2 separate regions of the Homo sapiens genome follow, and region 1 is linked to region 2. The links come from fine-mapping of genetic effects on gene expression. A gene starts in region 2. The other region holds a variant in brackets. All regions are shown on one strand. Distances are from middle to middle. Region 1 has its middle 92 kb from the start of CPA6. Region 2 holds the start of PREX2 (phosphatidylinositol-3,4,5-trisphosphate dependent Rac exchange factor 2).

Evidence for each region. PIP is the estimated chance that this variant, and not a neighbour inherited with it, causes the effect.
Region 1: its variant is fine-mapped to the expression of PREX2 in pancreas (GTEx, PIP 0.97).

The regions. Positions count from the first base shown.
Region 1 is chr8:67,836,691-67,839,514 of GRCh38, reverse strand. No RefSeq gene overlaps it. Among named protein-coding and RNA genes, the nearest start is that of CPA6, 92 kb to the right of the region's middle. The variant G/T (reference allele first, on the strand shown) is at 1,440.
Region 2 is chr8:67,950,796-67,953,619 of GRCh38, reverse strand. It overlaps PREX2 (phosphatidylinositol-3,4,5-trisphosphate dependent Rac exchange factor 2), which reads right to left and starts at 1,574. Exons shown (of 40, transcript NM_024870.4): 1 at 1,085-1,574. The coding sequence starts at 1,225.

The DNA of each region.
Region 1 (2,824 bases), 110 kb after region 2:
TATGCTTTTCTCTTGTTAATCTTTTATATAGGTGCCTCATCCATGAACCTACTAATGGGTGAGGAAAGAAATCTTTTCTCCCCGACAGAGACTGCAGTGTGACTGTACTGCAAAAATGCCAGTACTGTCTTACCTCCAACTCCACATCCCATGGGAAAGGCTCTGCAGCCTTGATGGCTGAAACCAAAGCTTTGGCAATGAGATGTGTTGGTTCAGGGCCTGGCCCTGAGTCCTCCCCTAGCTCAGTGTGCCAACAGACTGGGGGAACCAGGGGTGGAACCCACTTCCCAGACCACAAGGGCTACAAGTAGTGGAGACCTTGATACCATTAGTGAGACTGGGGGCTAAAGCCTGAAGGAGAAAGAATGGGGATGGGAGCCAAACCACAAATGTCTGCTACCATACCACCATCACTGGAGGATAACAACCATTGACATGTTGTTATATGTATGTGTGTAAGAAATTAGAGCAGTTATGTGCCCACCAAAAATGTACAACAATGGCATATCAATTTAAGAATGTTAGAAAGAAATTAGAGCATTTAAAAATGGATGTATAGTCTTCTCCTTTTACTTTATAATGTACAAAAGGCATCATTATGTGAGAAGAAAGTACCTTTAATTTGACAATTAGCACATAGTCCAAATATCATAGATTCAGTAGAGCTAAGTTAAAATTTAAAATCAAGGTCAGGAACATGTGAAAGACCTAGGGAAAAAAAAGTTGGAAAAAGAATTCAAGTTCATGAATTTTGCATCTGAGAGTCAGAGCTACTAATCTATCAAATACTTTGCTTATAGCATCGGAGCAAACTGTTCACGAGTAATTTTAACAAGTTTTTCTTAATTCATTCAAGGGGTAAGTATAATGAAAACTAAAGTAGGGTTACAGACAGGCCAGAATCGAATGACAGAATAAGCATGATGAGTTATCTGTATTCATTTTACATGACTGATACATTGAAAATTTTCCTCAGTCAAAAACAACTTCCATATGATATCATGCTGGTCAGGGATGGTAGCAACTGATACTAAGTATTGCAGGAAAAGAGTTGGTTAGAAAAGTCAGTTTCACATTAAAATGGCAATGTAGCAAACATACATGCATCTGGTTAAGATTTATTAAGAATAAAACATCTAGCAGAAGAGGAAGTTTCCACCAATGCTATTAACCATGCATATTTGATTTCATCTTCAATGCCATGACTGTCACACTGCATTTATTACTTAGACGATCTCATTACTTTTCCTATACTTCCTTCCTTTCATTGAATTTTGTGATCTTATAACCCATGACATGTAGCACTCACACCATACTACAGTGATATGTGCTAGATGTATACGTATGACAAAGTTCTGTGATCAAAGAACAACAAGATCTGTCATCCTCCAGATACTGCAGTCAGGGTCAGTTCTCAATTATTTCTCCTTGGGAACAGG[G/T]TTATGTTTACTATTGCTATTACTAAATATTTATGTGACAAATGAGATGCTCAAAAGTCTCCAAACAACTTTTATGTGTCATCTTCTCAAAGGCTTGCCTTGATGGAATGACATTCCTACGCACATTTTGCAAAAGGACAGCTAAGTCAACATCAATGGGCACATCAAAACCAGGAGGCAGCCATGACTTCAGGACAAGGATCATGATTCCTTCCAAGAAATAGAAAACCACTGGGGACTTTGAGCAGGAGAGGGAGTTCTTAGCAGAAAAGATGTTTGTTTTTGTTTCTGTTTTCTTTTAGAGAGATAACTTTGACAGAGTATCATAGGCGAATAGGTGTGTGAAGAGAGTGGAAAAAACAAGGCAGACAAAACAGTTGGAGTGAACTGCAATAGATCAGGCTTGAGGGGACAAGGGCCAGATAAAGGATTTAGCATTTGCAAGTGCAGATGTAAAGCAAAATGGTGAAGAGATACATGGTCTGGAAGCACCAGTGTAGACAAAGGTTTGAGCCTCTTCTTCCTACCAAGTGAATCAGGGCAAGAGTCGCAACTGAGTGGCACAAAACAATGGCATCACCATGGGGAAGCCTGGATTCAGGTATGGGGATGGGGAACGAGGTCGAGAGCTTGAACACCTTTCAATAGATTGGACAGAACAGAAAAGTCAAGGTCTGGAGCTAGAAATACCTACTTGGTGGCCAGACCCACTTTCCAAAATGGTAATAAGTTTATTTAGGTAGATGGATTCCAGACAAGGTAATGACAATCAACAGATGGAAAGCTAGGCCAGGAGCTGACATCAGGCTGGCCTAAAGAAGTAAAAGAATATTATCAAAATTAGACGACCCAAAGGGTGAATGTGAGCCAACAATCTGTAGAGATCCAGGCAACAGACAGCATTATGCACATCTGACGTTTCACCTTCCAAGGAGTGAGAATTGACAAGGATGAGGCGTGACCTGTTCCAGGTGACCAGCACATTAGACAGGTATTTGATGCAGGGGCTCCAGCAAGAGGAATGGGTCATGAGGCTGCTGGAATGAGAGGACAAACAGAGAGCTGGGTGTTAACCCCCAACTATGAAAATTGAGACACAAAGTCAGAGTGAGGTTGACGTAGAGCAGAAGCACTTGAATATTGAAGACTAAGGACAAAATTGGCCACAGGCTCCAGAGCCAGTGGTCTCTTCCATGGAGAGAGAAAGGAGTACAAAGCTAAAGAGATACGAGGGTGTTTTTTGAAGTATTTGAAAGAGTAGTTAAGATAAAGGATAGTTTGTTCAAGACAGATTGGGGCTCCTAGGCACACTGAAAAGAATCAGATGTGACAACTGTCTAGAGAGTAATTTGTGAAGAAAATATCATTTTCCCAATGGATACCTA
Region 2 (2,824 bases):
ATTTCAGAACACTAAGCAGGAAGTTTGGCACCTGAAATATTTTCCTTCAGACCAAGGGGGCATGGAATTGGTTGTTGGAAGGAGAAGGATTTGGATGAGATCACAAAAACTAAAGCTCCTGGTTCTTTGAATGATGCTCTCCCAGGAATCTGGGTGGAAAGAAGCCAAGGCTCAAATTCTTTGTCTTTTCAGCAATGAATAGGAAAAATTCAACTTTTGAGTGTTATCTCAGCAGTTACTTTCACTCAGTTTTGCCCCTTCGGCCCTAAAATGAATGAGACGTTTTCAAAGCAGATGGCAGTGAGTCAAGCAGAAACGTGGAATATAAGTACATCCCCACTTCCACGAAGTCCCGAAGCTTGATTACAGCACTCTCATGGGCCATGTAAACAGGGGACCAGAAACTGAGCAGAAGACAGATTTAAGCCGGGGCGGGGGGCGGGGGGGAGGGAATTGTAAGACTAGGACAGGGTGAGCGCCACATGTGGCTTTAATATCCAACAGCTGCTAGAGATCATCACCCCGCTGCTCTCTCTGTACCCCTACACCAGAATCCTCTGTCTCAAAGACCATAACTAAAGCGGCCACTGCCATGTTATCTGAGTAACGAACTCAAGCTCGAGCACATTCAAGGATTTTTTTTAACTTAGTGTACCTGGATGTAGCCGACTGGACCTTTAATCACAAAACCAAAGCTTTAAAACAAAGTCTCCAGGAAAGAACAAGAAGGAAAATCAATTACACAGTGCACTTGAGCAGACTGGGGAGGCGGGTAAAAGAAAAGTGAGGGAAGATAGGGCAGCCGGGATTCCCTGGACTGGAGCTCTCTTCTCTAGAGCTAACTTTTCAGACCTGGAGGTCTCCAAGGCCCCCGCAACTCAGTGAGTCTCGGGGCACCAACAAATCCCCGCGGGGGTCACCGCGCCCGCGAACGCAGAGTCCACACGTGGATTCCCGCGCCTGTGATGCCCCGACCCGTCCCGGGTCCCCGCACAGACAATGCCGCGCGTCCTTCCCGCAGCCACTCCGGGACCCGCGCCCCGCGCCGCCCGGACGTCCCCCTGCGTCTGCCGGGGACACTCACCGACACCAGGAACTCCAGCGTGCCCACATAGTCCCGCTCGGTCTTCTGGAGCTCGCTGAGCACGCACACGCGCAGGCGAAGCTGCTTCTCCAGGTCCTTGGCGCTCTCGGCGCGGCTGTCTCCGCGGCTGTCCTCGCTCATGGTCGGCGGCGGTGCGCAGCGCGGCGCTGCCCGCCGTGCTGAGCGCTGACCCGCGCGCCCGCTGCTGCCCGGCCCCCGGCGGCGAGAATGGAAAGTTGCCGCCTCCGCCAACTCCGAGGAGAGACAGAAGACTTTACATGCTGGGGAGAGGCTGGGCGCAGGGAGAGGAGGGGATCGGGCTGAAATCCCGGCGCGGGGGGCGCGGGGCTCTGCAGAGGAAACTCCTGGGAGTGGGGGCTCCGGCCAGGCCCTGCGCGCCCGGCCCCGCTGCTCTGGCCTCACACGGCCGGGGCTGGAGGGGAAGCGGCTTCGGCAGCCACAGCAGTGACTTGGACATTAATCAAAAGCTTTGTATCCATGTGACTCCGACCCTTTACCCTTCGCCAAATCTCAGGAAAAAGGAAACACAACCCTGGGGAAGTACTGCGTACTGGCTAATCACACACACGCGCGCGCGCGCACACACACACACACACGCACACACACACACACACACACACACAGCAGCACTTGATATGGAACTCACAGGAGGTTCCCAATCCCAGGGACACACACTCCAAGGCGCAGCTCGAGGGTTACTCCTAAGCCTCCGCTATTGTTTAACTTTAATGTGTTTCGTACAAATCCTGAAAGCAAAGAAACAAGTCCCCACGGTTACATAACTGGATGGGAACAAAAACAACCACGGTATTGACCCTCCCTCTTTGAAAAGAAACACATTGATTTTTTGTTTCATTCAGGCACAAAACAGGTTTGCTTTTAAAACCCTCCAACTGAGAATAGTTCACAGGGCAGACACCCTCCAGTCTGAGCTTGGAAAGTCAATTAGCATAATAAATGAAGACACTATGGGAAAATGACAGCCTCTGCCCATGCAATAAACCCCAGATAAAATAAGCATCACCCTTGTACTGTGCTGTTTTCCATGTCTACAACTTTTTTCAACATCAAGATAGTATGTAAATCCATTGAGAGGCGAGGGTATTTGTGCCAGTTTTGTTTCTAAGAGCTGCTGTGATTTAAGACGGTGTCACTAATTGAAAAGATAAAGCTGTTGTTGAATGCTCATCAGAAGATAGAAAGCTAGATAGATAACGGAAATAATCTTAGATTTTTGAAGATAGACACACAGAACATTCTTGATTTTAAAGTTAAAGTTTATTGCCTTTTCTCACTTGGAAACTAAGCCTTAAATATTTCCAATACATTTAACAAACAAAACAATTTATATATTTTTTTGAATTGGTATTATACACATATATTTTCCACAGATCAACTTCAGTCTAAAACTAATGGCATTTAAATAAACTGAAGAGTGAATAGAGTTGTTGCAAGAAAGTGGTATGTTAATTTGTTGCAGTCACTGAAAGCATTAGCAAAACTCTAAAACATAAAGATGCTTTTCACTATATTTACATTAAAATAATTACCTATTGGTTTTCCAGATGATGTCTTTCCAGAGCATAGTGTGACCATTCCCCTCTGTAACCACACAAAGAAGGATTGTACTTTCTTTGTATATTAAAGATAAAATTTTCGAATGATGTACACAAAGCTGATGGGCAAGATGTGATTTTCCTCTTTCTTTTACAAATGACT